Homo sapiens: one gene and its partners. The protein of the gene in region 1 purifies or fractionates together with the protein of each later gene. This does not show direct contact. Each region holds a gene or a part of one and is shown in the gene's direction. Other genes may lie near its edges.

The links.
Region 2: the proteins of ENTREP1 (region 1) and TBC1D15 purify together in Homo sapiens (affinity purification with mass spectrometry; 3 studies listed by BioGRID and IntAct, with this or other methods). This does not show direct contact.
Region 3: the proteins of ENTREP1 (region 1) and SLC12A4 purify together in Homo sapiens (affinity purification with mass spectrometry; 3 studies listed by BioGRID and IntAct, with this or other methods). This does not show direct contact.
Region 4: the proteins of ENTREP1 (region 1) and SLC26A2 purify together in Homo sapiens (affinity purification with mass spectrometry; 3 studies listed by BioGRID and IntAct, with this or other methods). This does not show direct contact.

The regions. Positions count from the first base shown.
Region 1 is NC_000009.12:69,373,499-69,377,539, forward strand, and holds part of ENTREP1 (endosomal transmembrane epsin interactor 1), read left to right. Parts: intron 1-2,237; coding exon 2,238-2,366; intron 2,367-3,871; coding exon 3,872-3,979; intron 3,980-4,041. UniProt on the Homo sapiens protein: Functions as an activator of the E3 ubiquitin protein ligase ITCH in the ubiquitination of the CXCL12-activated CXCR4 receptor. Thereby, triggers CXCR4 endocytosis and desensitization, negatively regulating the CXCL12/CXCR4 signaling pathway.
Region 2 is NC_000012.12:71,915,989-71,919,758, forward strand, and holds part of TBC1D15 (TBC1 domain family member 15), read left to right. Parts: intron 1-1,709; coding exon 1,710-1,809; intron 1,810-2,462; coding exon 2,463-2,560; intron 2,561-3,770. UniProt on the Homo sapiens protein: Acts as a GTPase activating protein for RAB7A. Does not act on RAB4, RAB5 or RAB6.
Region 3 is NC_000016.10:67,958,638-67,962,407, reverse strand, and holds part of SLC12A4 (solute carrier family 12 member 4), read left to right. Parts: intron 1-701; coding exon 702-833; intron 834-3,770. UniProt on the Homo sapiens protein: Mediates electroneutral potassium-chloride cotransport when activated by cell swelling. May contribute to cell volume homeostasis in single cells. May be involved in the regulation of basolateral Cl(-) exit in NaCl absorbing epithelia.
Region 4 is NC_000005.10:149,977,488-149,981,257, forward strand, and holds part of SLC26A2 (sulfate transporter), read left to right. Parts: intron 1-140; 5' UTR 141-165; coding exon 166-864; intron 865-2,805; coding exon 2,806-3,770. UniProt on the Homo sapiens protein: Sulfate transporter which mediates sulfate uptake into chondrocytes in order to maintain adequate sulfation of proteoglycans which is needed for cartilage development.

The DNA.
Region 1 (4,041 bases):
TGTACTTCCCTGCATCCTGTTTTTATCACTTAAAGATGTATCACTTAGAGATAGATTAAATACAGACTAACACCCTTAATTTCTTTTACCAAGTTAGTTCCTTATTTTGTTATTGCCTGTTGTGGCTTGGGTTTTGACCAGTAGACACAGTGCTGCCATTAATATCATTCTGTATATCCTCAGGGAGATTTTAGTCCTAAGCGGAGTAGGTTCCCAGGACAAGGAATTGTTCTCAGCAGTATCTTTTCTCCTGCTTATCTCATTTATTATTACAAATTCAACCATTTTATTGTTCTATCCATCGCTTTTAAATTGGGGTAGAAGTTACAGTGAAAAACACAAATCTTAAGTGTGCAGTTCATTATAAGTTTTGACCAATGTATACATTCATTTTGACAAATGTATACACTCATGTTATACTCCAAACAATTTCTATACTCCAAACAAAATATTGTTTGTTGTACTCCAAACAATATTTCTGTCACCCTAAAAAGTTCTTTAGTGTCTCTTTTCAGGCAGTCTCTACTCTCTCATAGGCAACCACTGTTCCTGTTTCTTTCACCATGGGTTAGTTTTGCATGTCCTTGAACTTCATGTAGATGGAGTCACACGGTTTGAAAGTTTTTGTGTCTGACTTATTTTGCCCAGTGTAATGTTGTTGAAATTCATCCATATTTTTATATTGTATCTGTTGTTTGTTCCTTTTTTCAGGACACTATTTCATTTTATAAAAATACCAGAATTTTTTTGTTTTTTTGTTCTCTTGTTGATGGACAGTTAGGTTGTTTCCAGTTTGGGGGTATTATGAACAAAGCTGCTGTGAGCATTATTGTTTTGGGGAGGCAGTTTTCATTTCTCTTGAGTGAATACCTAGGCACGGAGCTGCTGGATGATGCGGTGCTAAAGAGTTTTCCAAAGTGGTTGGGGAAGTGAGTATTTTTAATTTAAAATGGATAGTCAGTTCCTTCATTAAAGGGCTTAAACTCACCAGTGACTGGTGAATTTCTACCAGTGGCTCTCCACGTCTCCACCAGCAAAGAGAGTTTCTCTCTTTTTAAAGTTGTGCCAGTCTGATGAAGCCAGAGTGAGAGCTTGCTGTCACTCTAATTTGTAGTTCCCTGAGTGCTTAAGATGGCATCATCATTTTTTAAAAAGCTCTCCAGAAAATTCAAATGTACAGGCAGGATTAAGAATGCTGCTATTGAAAGGTGACAGGGGGAAGACAAAGATCTGACCTCTTCAGGCAGTAGCACCAAGAATGCAGGGTGGATGTTCATTATTTAGGATCAGGGAGACTTCTACAAATTTGTTTGTGGATAGGCTAAAGTGACTGATGAGAAGTGAGAATAAGTTTTTAGAAATATTGGGCAGAGATGGGATTAAGAATGGAGGTGAAGGTATTAGATTCTGCAAGGATCAGGAATAGGGGAGAAGGAACGCACAGTGCACAGTTGCCTGGAATCATTTTGCACAGTGCCTGAGGTTTCTTTGTATCCAGTGGGAAAATTAATTGGTATTCGTGATCATTTGTATAATGAGTAAACTTTCAAATAGGGTTGTTTAAAGGGACTGAATTTCACCCATCTGGAAAATTTTGCCATCCAGACTGGCTCACTCCAGAGGTGCCAGGTAGCTGAAGTTTCTGAAGAGCTGGACATCTATGTTATATGGTGTGTGCAGCCCACATAGGCCTGGTTTCCCACTTAACTAAACGCTTTGTATCAAGAATGGACTTGTTTGGGAAGGGAATATTTTGTAAGATGATGCCTAGTATTGTCTGAGAGAGATAGAGCTTTCAGGTTAAGATCTTGAGGCTTGCACCAAGTGCAAAAAATGAAAATCAGAGTGCATTGTGTTGGGGAAAAAAAAGTGAGTTTGGTTCCTTTTGGGGAAGAGTGGGACTCATGTACACGAGCAGAATGGAGGCTGATACTTCATCTCATTTAGCTGCTTGTTTGTTAGTACTAAACAGGATTAGTATGAAAACAGGAAGTTCTCAGCTGGAGACTTTAAAGGAGAAAGGAGGAATATTAAAATTCCCTTTGTTTTGTGAAAGCCACTGAAATTTAGGTTTTGGTTGTTACCATGCTATACCCTAGCCCATCCTGACTGATAGAGGCATTGCCTGACACAGAACCCTGCCATCATCTCATTCTACAGGATTGGTGCTCCATGGTAGAGCCAGGGTATTTTTTCTTAATAATTAAAGTATTTTTTTTTACCTTTCCTCCGTTAAGGTGGACTTAGGTGAAGGCAAGATTTGCTTCTGTTGTGAAGAATTTCAACCAGCCAAGTGCACAGACAAAGAAAATGCCTTGAAACTCTTTCCGGTTCAGCCCTGTAGTGCTGTTCACCTTCTACTTAAGGTACCTCAAACAGATTCCCACCCGCACGGTAAATACACCACGGAGCCCCCAAAGAAGGCAAACTTACTTGAAATATTCCTGTTCTATTACCTCCCTCAAACAATTAAGCTGCTGAAAGCGCATGTGAGTGACCCCAGAGACAGAATTGAATGCAGAAAGAACCACAGATTATTGTGTGTGTTAAATTATGTATGGACAGCTTTCTTTGTGTTGAAGAACTGTAAGATAGTAAAAAATGGAAAGGAGCCTGACTATATATATGTATATGTATACACATACACACATATTTCCACATATAAACATATGCATACGTACATATGTATACCTACACACACATATACGGTGTAGCTTTTAGCAAAACCTTTAAGTCGCACACTCGTGTGTCATTGTTCTGATGCTCATTTGTTTGCTTACATGGGTCATATGGGCCACTGAGTACTACCAGTCTGCAACACGTAGACTAAGGAGAGAGATTGGCCAGAAAATATGGGGGAATTGAAGCACCTTAGCTCTTGTTTAATAAGCAACAACTATAATAAGCCAAAGGTATTAAACAAACAGATGATCCCAGTTGAAGAGAAATACAAAATTAGCCTTCATCAGGGAATTGGATAAAAATTGTGCCCTGACTTAAGGAACATTAGCTCAGTGAGTGACAAAATCAACTGGTGAACCCTGAGGTATGGCTTTTTGAGAGTCCACTTCTGCCGGTTTTCTTTAGATATTTGTTTTGGGTTTCATTTTGGTGGGGAGGAAGAATCTCCAAGGAAAGAGAGAACTGTTCCAAGCTACCAGCTCTGGGTTGTGTGGGATGTGGAAATGGCCTGCTTTCCATGGCTTCTGCATTTTTGGTAGCTGAGTCACCCCCAAACTTTCTGAGCCAGGACTTAGCTTGGGGAAAGCCCCACTCAAGGAGCCAGGACTGTACCAACAGAAGCGTTTGGAATGGCCTTTGCTATTTTGAGATGTGTGTTTAGTGGAGAGAAGTCCTATTTACACTCTGGCTGGGCCAGCTCCTTCAGTGTCCTCGTCGTGTGCATGGGGCAGCACAGCCAATTGCTCTTGAAATAGAATTAGTGGCCACAAATTAAGCAGTGTGCTGTGCTGGTGGGAGGCTGTGGGAGGGAGGAGGCTGGGAATTGCTATCCCTGGGGAAATCAGCCTCAGAAGAGAAGCTCACTGCTCTCCTGGAAGGAATGTTTCTCGACAGTATTCTGATGCTTGCAAAAAGAAATACTATCATACCACGTTGTTCTGTGACAGAAAGCTTCTAAGATAAGTTTTTGGAATTAAGAAGTACACATTATTGCATGAGGGTCATAATAATAGCCAGCATTTATTTGGGCACTTTCCACGAGCCAAACACCATCTAAGTCCTTTACATGCATCCTCTCCTGAGAATTGTCTTATGGAGGCAGCGTTATTATTATTTTAAAGATTTTCTACATTGTATTCTGGTGATGTTTGTTGAAGTACTTAGTGGTGCCATTGTTTCCTTGCCCCAGAAAGTCCTCTTTGCCCTGTGTGCCTTGAATGCCCTGACCACCACCGTCTGCTTGGTGGCCGCTGCCCTCCGCTACCTCCAGATATTCGCAACCAGGAGATCCTGCATCGTAAGTCTATGCAAGGGCATCATGGCCACGTTTCCGCTGAGCCAGCCCATGGACCCCTTCGT
Region 2 (3,770 bases), on another chromosome or scaffold:
CCTAACGTCTGTAAATTTACTTTTGTTGATGTTTACTTGCATCTAATGTAGGTCTAGGCATAGACTTTGTCTATTATCATGGAAATACAAAGTACAAGTGATCTGATGAACTTTGTTATACCCATCATCCATTTTGCCATATAGTTTTAATTCCTTTCTCCTCTCCATCTCCCCCTCCCCTGCCCCATACAGACACATTTATTTACAGACACATTTGAAGCCCTTTGTATATCCATTGTTGATCCCACTCTCCCTTCTCCAGGAGTAACCACTTTTTCGAATATGGTGTCTGTCATTATGGACATGTTTCTTTTTTACAGCAGAGTGGGTAGCAAATGTCTATGCCATGTTGGTATTCCCAGATCAGCTCTAGTCTTTGACTGTGTCACAGCAAAAATGATCCTGTTAATCAGAGTTGATTCTGCCCCTTCTCTATAGATCTCTCTGGTAAATGTGGAGGAACTATATCCTAAAGCCTTGAGTTAGTCTATTAATAAACTGGTTTTTAAAATTCATTAAAGAGAAACAGCTTATTGAGAATTAATAGACTTAAATTTTTTTTAAGAATGAATTGTTTCTAATATGATAGTTCTAATAAAGCACTATTGTACTGTAAAAGTGAAAAAGTAAGTGTGAAGGAGGAAATGTTTTTCTAAGGCTTTCACTAGGGTTAGGGCGGTAGGTTACCACAGAGGGATCGGGACATATGAGTTAAAGGGATCCAAATCATTTAAGAAGCCTTTCAGAGCATCAGTTTTGGTGCCTTCTGGCCCCTTGACTCAGGTGTTGGTAGGGAGTCTACTCAACTATGAAGTTTCTTTAAAGCATATGAACCCCAGCAGTTCCCAAACTTTGTGACCTCAGGGCCCCTTCACACTCTCCAATATTATTGAAGACCTGAAAGAGTTTTTGTTTATGTGGGTTATATCTGTTGATGTTTATGTGAAAAATTAATACTGAGAAACTTGTATTCATTTATTTATTAATTCATTAAATAACAACACATTCTACCTTAACATAGATCACTTTTTTTTAATGAAAAGTAACCTTTCCTAATGAAAAATTTACCGACACAAGAGATTGTTTTAAATTTTTCATTTTTAAAAATGTCTGGTTTAATAGAAGACAGCTGAATTTTCATATTTGCTTCTGTGTTCAGTCTTTTGGAGTATCACACATCATACAGCCTTTGCACTTGTGAAAGAATTTAAGTATGAAATCCAGATAATGTTTTAGTATTGTCCTGAAAATGGTTTTGGCTTTACAGATTCTCCAATGTAAAGTAATTCTTTAAAATGAAATACATACTAAAACTAAAATTAATTTTATTATGTATAATTTGAAGGAATATTTAACAATGGAAAGAATTTGATAAATATTTATTTCCCAAATGTGTGTTTCTTTCACCAAGTCTTTTATGCTGTGTAAGAAATAAATAGTCAGTCTGCAGTTGCTATGTCTGCATTCTTCTTTATCTAAGTCAAATGAATAGAGGAAAAAATAATCCTTAGTTTTGAGAGCAAGGATTCTTTCTCTTTACCCTCCCTTTTAGTGTTACGTTAGATTTTTGGTTAGTTACGCATTTTTTAAGATTACCAGTGTGGTATAAGTTCAGCATTTGTCCTTAGACATCATGTTTTAGTTATCAGTCATTATGTACTATAAAATATTTATTAAATATTACTTGTAACAATTATTTCCTTTTAAAGCATCAGAATTTTGAAGAACAAATGCAAGGCATGAAGACCCAGCTAATTCAGCTGAGTACCTTACTTCGATTGTTAGACAGTGGATTTTGCAGTTACTTAGGTAAGTTTAGTGAATCAGAACTATACCCAGCAAATTGTAGAGTAATGCATAGAAAAAAATGTAAAGAACTCTTTAAAGAAGCCAGGTGCAGTGGCTCATGCCTATAATCCCAGCACTTTGGAAGCCAAGGAGGGAGGATTACTTGCACCCAGGAGTTTGAGACTAGCCTGGCTAGCACAGTGAGACCCCATCTCTACAAGGAAAAAAAAATGCTGGCTGTGGTGATGCATGCCTGTAGTCCCAGCCACTCAAGAGGCTGAGGTGGGAGGATTACTTGAGCCGAGGAGGTTGAGGCTACAGTGAACTGGGATCACTCCACTGCACTCCGACCTGGGTGACATAGCAAGACACTGTCTCAATAAAAAAGAACTTAAAGACATATATACTCTATTGCACTTTCTTCGGTTCCATAAAAATGTGGAACCAAACTCTCTTTGTATAATTCTGCCTTAAACTTGATTCGTAAAATGTATTATTTGTTAGTTTTTAAAAAGAAGTCAGCCTTCAAGTTTGAAATGATTCCTTAACGTAGAAGACAAATGTATAGGGCCTTGAATTGCCTAAGATGCATAGGAAAGTTAGAGAAAAGTAACTGTATTCTGACATAATTAGCATAAGAGTAAGTCATATGTGTGTTTTTTTCTTCTGCATAGAATCTCAGGACTCTGGATACCTTTATTTTTGCTTCAGGTGGCTTTTAATCAGATTCAAAAGGGAATTTAGTTTTCTAGATATTCTTCGATTATGGGAGGTAAGTCCTTAAATTATTATGCAAATGTGATATTTATTATGAAAAGAAACAATTTATTCTGTAGAGTGTAAATGAATTATGATAGCCTTACTGAAATATCTAAGGCAAGTATGTTCCAAAATTCTGATGAACTGGTAGCCTCTTCTTAAAAATTAGTTTCACACTGAATATTTGGTCTTTTGGAGCTTCGTTCTTCAAATCACAATCTCTGTGAGATTTGGGGCCAAGAGGTATCCCAGAACAAGTGCTCTAGACCATTTGCTGCCTTTGTTCTTCCTTTGTGAGACTTGACTTTATGTGAGGCTTTGCCACATCTGTTATAGAGGATATTCTTATGTTTTTGGTGTACTCCTTTTGTTCCATTTTTTACCCAAGGCAACTCTTTATTTTTTCAACTTTTATTTTAGGTTCAGGGAGTACATGTGCAGGTTTGTTACATAGGTAAATTGCATGTTGCTGAGGTTTGGTGTGTGAATGATTCCATCACCCAGGTAGTGAGCATAGTACCCAATAGGTAATTTTACATCCCATGTTTCCCTTACACCATCCCCCCATGTGTAATCCCCAGTGTTTATTTTTCCATGGCAACCTTTAATGAAAAACCAAATCATTTCACATTTTCTAAAGTATTTGCTAATAATAAATCAGTGTGCTTTTTTTTTTTTTTTTTTTAAAGAGAAGGGGTCTTGCTATGTTACCTAGACTGATCTCGAACTCCTGGACTCAAGTAATCCTCTTGCCTCAGCTTTATAAGTAGCTGGGACTACAGGTCTACAGGTGTATGCCACTGTGTCCAGCCCAGTGTGCTTGTTCATAGAATGCTGGTATAATGATTGATCATACCTTAGGATAACAGAAATTCTTCCAAGGAAAGAATTGGGAGATAATCCATTTTGATTGTAAATCCAACTTTATACAGTGGAACTCTAGTGGTCTCTGAGGTTTTTACAGCTGGAAATGGATTCCTATACTATTGATGGCTGTGCTACCATTAGACAAGGCATTGTGCTGATTACAAGTTAAAAGTGGATTACTTTATGCTCACTTCCTCTGTTCTCAGATTAGAAGTAAAACCCACATGGTCTCTATCTGGAATCGTACTTAAATGTTTATCAGTTTTGTTAAATTAGTGTCTTAATTTGGGGGTTAAAAATGGGTTAATGTATTTATGCCTAGTGTTCCATTATTGGAACGCTAAGCATGTGGGAGT
Region 3 (3,770 bases), on another chromosome or scaffold:
GCTGCAGGAGCAGGGATCATCGCCTAGACCCCGGTGGGGCTGGGGGACCTGAGCTCTGGGAGGCCTCCTGACCTGGGAAAGCAGCAAGGTTCTGCGGTGAAGGCCTTGGCCCAGCCCCGCCTGAGGATGGGCTGGAGGATCAGGATCCCATCTCCGCGATTGATGTGGGTACTTGCAGGACTGGGGTCAGGGGAAGACCATCCAGGGAGATCAGGGTTTGGGCAGACAAGGGAGACTTCACTTGTCCCAGACATCACTCTTTTGCCCTCTTTGGTTCCCTGAGGTGACTAGAGTGGCTTTTTTGTGGGGAGGGTAGGCGTGAGTCCTAGAGGTGCAGCCATAGCCAGGAGGTGGCTGGGCAGAGCAGGCAGGATGAAGTATGCCATTGCCCCCCTGCCAGCCGTGTTCTTCCCTGCCCTCTCTCCCCTGAGGCAGGTGGTTTTCACAAATGGGCTGGCAGTGATTGTAGCCAAGGCGGGGTAGAGAGAAGCAGCCGCGGGGCTGGGCCTTTGAGTGCCACGTGCTGGGGTGTGGTGTGCACACCTGTCCAGTTGGATGGCTTGGACTTCCCCAGGTAGGAACTGGGATCAGGCCCAGGCCTGTCTCAGGGCTTGGAACAGGGCCAGGGACCAGGCAGCTGGCTCCACACAGCTGGCACCCACCTGGCCCAATGCCATCTTGCCCTGTGGCTCTGTTTGCAGGAAGAGCTGGACATCCGCCCAAAGGTATCGTCTCTTCTGGGAAAGCTCGTCAGCTACACCAACCTCACCCAGGGCGCCAAAGAGCATGAGGAGGCCGAGAGTGGGGAGGGCACCCGCCGGAGGGCAGCCGAGGTGAGCTGGTTGGGGCGGCAGAGGGGCCACACCTGGGAAGACAGACACAGCACCATGGAATTGACTGTTTCCCCACATGGTGGTGAGCACACTGGGGGAAGTGGGTGCCAAGCATAGTGAGCAGGGAGGATGGGCACTGAATGCCTTGTCTCAGGAGGCTTTAAGAAGTGACCTAATGAGAATCCCCCCGGGGGGCAGAGGGCCAGGGAGCCCCTCAGGAATGACAGCAGGAGACACAGCTGCCTGTACTCAGCCTTTACTGTGTGCGAGGTACCACACCAGGCCTGGGTTCTCATATGTCATCTGTACAACAAAACCAAGAGGCAGGTGCTTACTATCATCCCCATTTTTCAGACAAGGAAATAGTGTCAGGGACATTAAGGAACTTGTCTAAGGTGACTGAGCTAGACAAGATCAATGTGTAATGCTGGGAGATGGATTCGTAGATTTTATGGGAGACAGATTTGTGGGATATGTAACTATGCAAAATGCCAGATCAGTGACATTGTGTGAGGCTGGCTAAGAGTGTTGCCCTTGGAGCCAGGAACCAGGTTGTCTCTCGGAGGTCATGCAATCCAGAGCAAGTCACAAACCCTCCTGCTGCTCGCAGTGTTGGCCCAAGGCTCTATTGGCAGAAGCCTCCAACAACCCCCTGGGTTCCTTGAGTGCCAGTGTCAGGGGACATGTGTATGTGATCGGAGCCTGATGCTGCCTTGTGGGGCTTTCCTGTCCCACTTTTTGGTCACTAATCCAGTTCTCTGGCCCTTCAGCCCTCTTCTCTTTGGGGTGACTGTTACCTCTTTGCCTAGCTCCTCTGTGTCATTGCGGCTCAGTGTAGCTGAGGGCTGGGGATTTTTCTACATTTTTCATTTGGAGGCTAGGGACCCTCCCTCTCCACACACTGACTCCCTGAGGTTTGGGAAGCAGTGGTGTTTTAAGAGGAGCTGACGTCTGGCACTGGCTGTAGTATTCTCAGAGGTCGGCACAAGCAGAAGGCGCTCCTGGCTGGGATAAGCCAGGCCTGCAGCCTCACACCTGGTCGTGAGATTTGGGCCTTTCTGGGGTGGGGCCAGCAGAGAAGGTAGACCCCACTGAAGCGCGTCTCTCACCTTGCCCTTCAGGGAGGCAAACCAGCCCACACTTCAGAGAGGGCAGCTGATACCTTGAGGTCGCACAGACCTGACCCTGACCCTGTGCAGCCAGGTGTGACTAGATAGCAGAGAACCCTAACTGCGTCTGGCCATGTCTGTCCAGCACTGCAGGGGTGTCTCAACCTCTGAGAGTGCTCTGCCCACAGTGGGTGACAGGATCCTTAGGTCAGAGCCTCATCCTTGTCCCTTCAGGCCAAGCCAGGGAGCTGGTGGCGGGGAGTGAAGAGGCCCCTGAGAACGGCTAGTGCACATCTCAGCAGGAATGTGGGAGGGATGCCTGGGCCAGAGAGAGCCCATCATCCCTTGGCCCAATGGGGAACCCGTGAGGATGCTTAGCTTAGCTATCCAGCTTACCTGGCCACAGGGTAAGGATGGGAGAGGGTGACTGGGTGTCTTAGCTGCAGTAGTTTTTTCATGGAAGAAGGAGGAGCTGGGTCAAGTCTTTAAGGAGTCAGTAGGAAGTTAGGGATCTGGGGCTGCTGAGCTGTGGTCCTCACCCAGGGCAGGCCCGAGCAGGGGCCTCGGAAAAGGAAGGCTTGAAGCAGGAAGGGTGGGCCTCCGACCAGACCATGCCAAGACCCAAAGCAGCCTCTCCCCAGCAGCTGCTCCAGCTCCAGCACCGGCTTGATGACCTTCTGAGGCTGCCAGAGGTTATTTGGGGATGCAGAAAGCATTTCCGGCCCACCCTGCCCTTTCCCACACTGTCCTTTTCTTAGAGTGACTCAGCCTGGGATGGGGGTGGGACTGGGAGCTCTTGCTGTCGCTATTCTGTGGGTGGCATCCTCTGAGAAGGGCTCAGACAAAGCCCAGATGAGGGGGATCCGTCCCCTGCACTGCTCCACGCAGGACAGGTTGAGGAGCCATTTGTTTTTGCTGAGGCTCTTCTGAAGTCCTTTAGGTCGCTCACAGGTCTTGCCCCAGGCCAGGACCCTTCAGGAGGGGCATTAAGGAACTTGTCTAAGGTGACTCAGCTAGACAAGATCATGGCCATGGAGTTCTCTTCTCCCTAGCTTCAGGGCAGCACGGGCACTGTCTCGTGGGTCTTCCCTGTCCCCTCTCCCCGTATGATTTTCACTAATCTAGTCCTTTGGATCAGTGAGGAGGCTTTGCTGGGGCTCCAGTGGAAGCTGTCAGGGCCACACTTCGGAGGCTGCACTCTTGGGGGCTCAGTGCCTCAAAAAGATGTCAGCCAGCCTCTGTGCTCTCAGCCTCTGCCCTGGCCTCCTGGCTGGCCCCTACTCTGCCCTGAGTTGAGAAAGCCTGCCTGGATTTGCGTATTAGATCTTCCTCACCTGCCCTACAGCCTGAGCACTTTCTCTGTAGGATTTTCCCAACAGGATGTCCCAGGGGCTTCCAAAGCACCACTCACTGGGTTCAGAAGCACCTTTTGGGTACCTGCAGGGCCTGCTGGTGATAGAACCATAAACAAGCCAAGCCTGCCCTAATATAGTAACAAAATATACAAGCACATTCTGTTACCATGACCTGTAGTGACCACTGTGATAGGGAGTATCAGATGCCAAAGGAATGTGAGAGGGAGAACCAACTCCACCTGAGGCAACCTTCGGACATCTTCCCGAGAGAGGTAACAGTTTCACTGAAGAGTTTGCCAGGCCGTGAGGCAGGGCCGACTCTCCCAGGCAGAGTCCAGCACATTCTCAGGTTCGCAGAATCTGAGGGACCCATGTGGTCAGGGGCTGGAGCTAATAAGAGAGGTGATGGGACACATCTGGTGGCCCAAGCCAAGGAGTTGGACGGCACACTGGATTACAAGACAACAGAGGGT
Region 4 (3,770 bases), on another chromosome or scaffold:
AATTAAGGAAAAGGGACATAAGATACCTATTCCAAAACTGAATTCCTTTTAACTCTCATGAAATGACAAATAGAATTGTTAGTATATGTGAGCACTGAGAATTACTTTATTGATGAACACTGGTATTTTCTCTGGTGTAGGAAGCTGAACCATCTATCTCCAGAAATGTCTTCAGAAAGTAAAGAGCAACATAACGTTTCACCCAGAGACTCAGCTGAAGGAAATGACAGTTATCCATCTGGGATCCATCTGGAACTTCAAAGGGAATCAAGTACTGACTTCAAGCAATTTGAGACCAATGATCAATGCAGACCTTATCATAGGATCCTTATTGAGCGTCAAGAGAAATCAGATACAAACTTCAAGGAGTTTGTTATTAAAAAGCTGCAGAAGAATTGCCAGTGCAGTCCAGCCAAAGCCAAAAATATGATTTTAGGTTTCCTTCCTGTTTTGCAGTGGCTCCCAAAATACGACCTAAAGAAAAACATTTTAGGGGATGTGATGTCAGGCTTGATTGTGGGCATATTATTGGTGCCCCAGTCCATTGCTTATTCCCTGCTGGCTGGCCAAGAACCTGTCTATGGTCTGTACACATCTTTTTTTGCCAGCATCATTTATTTTCTCTTGGGTACCTCCCGTCACATCTCTGTGGGCATTTTTGGAGTACTGTGCCTTATGATTGGTGAGACAGTTGACCGAGAACTACAGAAAGCTGGCTATGACAATGCCCATAGTGCTCCTTCCTTAGGAATGGTTTCAAATGGGAGCACATTATTAAATCATACATCAGACAGGATATGTGACAAAAGTTGCTATGCAATTATGGTTGGCAGCACTGTAACCTTTATAGCTGGAGTTTATCAGGTAAGCAGCAATGAAACAATTGGTTATTTCTAGAAAAGTAATCTAGTACATGAAATCTCATATCTCTAAGGGATCTGAGGAATCACAATAATTAAAGGTATCATTTATTGAGAGTTCAGGATATATGAAGGGTAGAGGCAAAATTCAAACCCTAACCTGACTCCACAGGTAATATAAGGCTGGTTCACTGGACCTCCACCACCCAGTACAACTCCTTAATTTTACATGTCAGAAAATCTTGGCTTTGCTTGAGATTATTTGTGGCTGGTTATTGGCAGAGTCAGCATTAGCAGTTAGGCAAGTGGGTAACAGAATGGAGTTGAGAGTGCAGGAGTTTCTCACTTTTTTTTTTTTTCTGGAGACAGGGTCTCACTCTGTCACGCTGGAGTGCAGTGGCACTATCTTAGTTCACTGCAACGTCCGCCTCCCTGGCTCAAGCAGTCCTCCTACCTCAACCTCCTGAGTAGCTAGGACTACAGGCACATGCTACCACACCTGGCTAATTTTATTTTATTTTATTTTATTTTATTTTTTATTTTTATTTTTTGTAGAGACAGGGTTTTGCCACGTTGCCCAGGCTGGTTTCAAACTCCTGAGCTCAAGCAATCCTCCCGTCTTGGCCTCCCAAAGTGCTGGGATTATAGCCATGAGCCACCACACCCAGCCTCAAATTCTAAATGTCTCTTACCTTCCATTAAAATTGCTGATCTATTGAGCAACTCTTACTAAAGGTAGTGGTTGTCTTGGATTGTTGGGGAGGGAGGGAAAAAGTTGGGGACCACAGTTTCATATTATCAGCCAGGAGAAAGGATAAGAAATCAAATTCTTGAGTCTCCCATAGAATCCACTAATCTGTCATTATCATCATGCCCCTGGCTTTTGGCATCCAGGAGTCAGTGCCAGGATTAAACCTTCTCTAATGCAGGCATTTCAAACCAACAAGGGAAGGGGAAGAGTAGCTCACTTTAGTTGGTGCTCAGATGAGTGGGGAGGGAGAGTGAAGATGGTGTGAAGATGAGCTGTCTACTCATATATAATGGTAAATAATAAGTCTACTTACTTATTTATTATTTATTCATTTATTTATAAAGAGACAGGGTCTCTCTATGACCAAACTCCTGGGCTCAAGTGATCCTCCCAATATTGCCTCCCCAAATGCTGGGATTACAGGCATGAGCCATCACGCCCAACCAACTTTTGCCTTTTTGTTAGTATGTCCCACCAAGAAGGAAGAAGGCATAACAATTCTGAAAACTTATTAGACAGAGGAAAATATAAAGAAGTAAAAATGCAGAATTTTTATTAATATGGGAGACAGTGTGGCATAAGTACATATATACTGCATGAGAATGGTTTCTTAGTATGAGGTTAAAGATAATCTACAATAATTTTTAAAGTGTGATTCTACTTTGATGTAAATCTAATTTTTTGTTTTACCAATTAAAACTTCACTTGTACACTTGCTCTTAGCCAAGAGGCTGAGAAGCCGTAAGACTTCACTTTTACAGTAGTGATTTGTAATTTAAGGAAAATACTTGGTTTCTTAACTAGAATAATTTTTTCCAATTTGAAGTTTTCTTGTGGATCCTTGAGAATGTTTTTCTTTTAAAAGAGGTCTGTTCTTTGTGATGGGAAGAATGAAAAAAAAAAGAGGTATGAACCTTATTCAAGTTTAAGAAACGTATGAAAAGAAAGAAATCCAAAGTTCCTGTCTCACCTGGGTTAATAAGTAACAGTGTGACCTTGGGCAAGTTGCTTAGCCCTTTAAACATAATTTTCATCTTTGTAAAATGAGAAGATTGATATATGATTGTGTTTATTCTAGCTCTGACATTCTGTGATGCTCTGATGATATGTCTCCATGCAAGAAATGTCAGGATAATATAAAATTTAGAAGTTCTTTTCCATTTATATTTAACACTTCTATATCCTTCCTTCCAGGTAGCGATGGGCTTCTTTCAAGTGGGTTTTGTTTCTGTCTACCTCTCAGATGCCTTGCTGAGTGGATTTGTCACTGGTGCCTCCTTCACTATTCTTACATCTCAGGCCAAGTATCTTCTTGGGCTCAACCTTCCTCGGACTAATGGTGTGGGCTCACTCATCACTACCTGGATACATGTCTTCAGAAACATCCATAAGACCAATCTCTGTGATCTTATCACCAGCCTTTTGTGCCTTTTGGTTCTTTTGCCAACCAAAGAACTCAATGAACACTTCAAATCCAAGCTTAAGGCACCGATTCCTATTGAACTTGTTGTTGTTGTAGCAGCCACATTAGCCTCTCATTTTGGAAAACTACATGAAAATTATAATTCTAGTATTGCTGGACATATTCCCACTGGGTTTATGCCACCCAAAGTACCAGAATGGAACCTAATTCCTAGTGTGGCTGTAGATGCAATAGCTATTTCCATCATTGGTTTTGCTATCACTGTATCACTTTCTGAGATGTTTGCCAAGAAACATGGTTACACAGTCAAAGCAAACCAGGAAATGTATGCCATTGGCTTTTGTAATATCATCCCTTCCTTCTTCCACTGTTTTACTACTAGTGCAGCTCTTGCAAAGACATTGGTTAAAGAATCAACAGGCTGCCATACTCAGCTTTCTGGTGTGGTAACAGCCCTGGTTCTTTTGTTGGTCCTCCTAGTAATAGCTCCTTTGTTCTATTCCCTTCAAAAAAGTGTCCTTGGTGTGATCACAATTGTAAATCTACGGGGAGCCCTTCGTAAATTTAGGGATCTTCCCAAAATGTGGAGTATTAGTAGAATGGATACAGTTATCTGGTTTGTTACTATGCTGTCCTCTGCACTGCTAAGTACTGAAATAGGCCTACTTGTTGGGGTTTGTTTTTCTATATTTTGTGTCATCCTCCGCACTCAGAAGCCAAAGAGTTCACTGCTTGG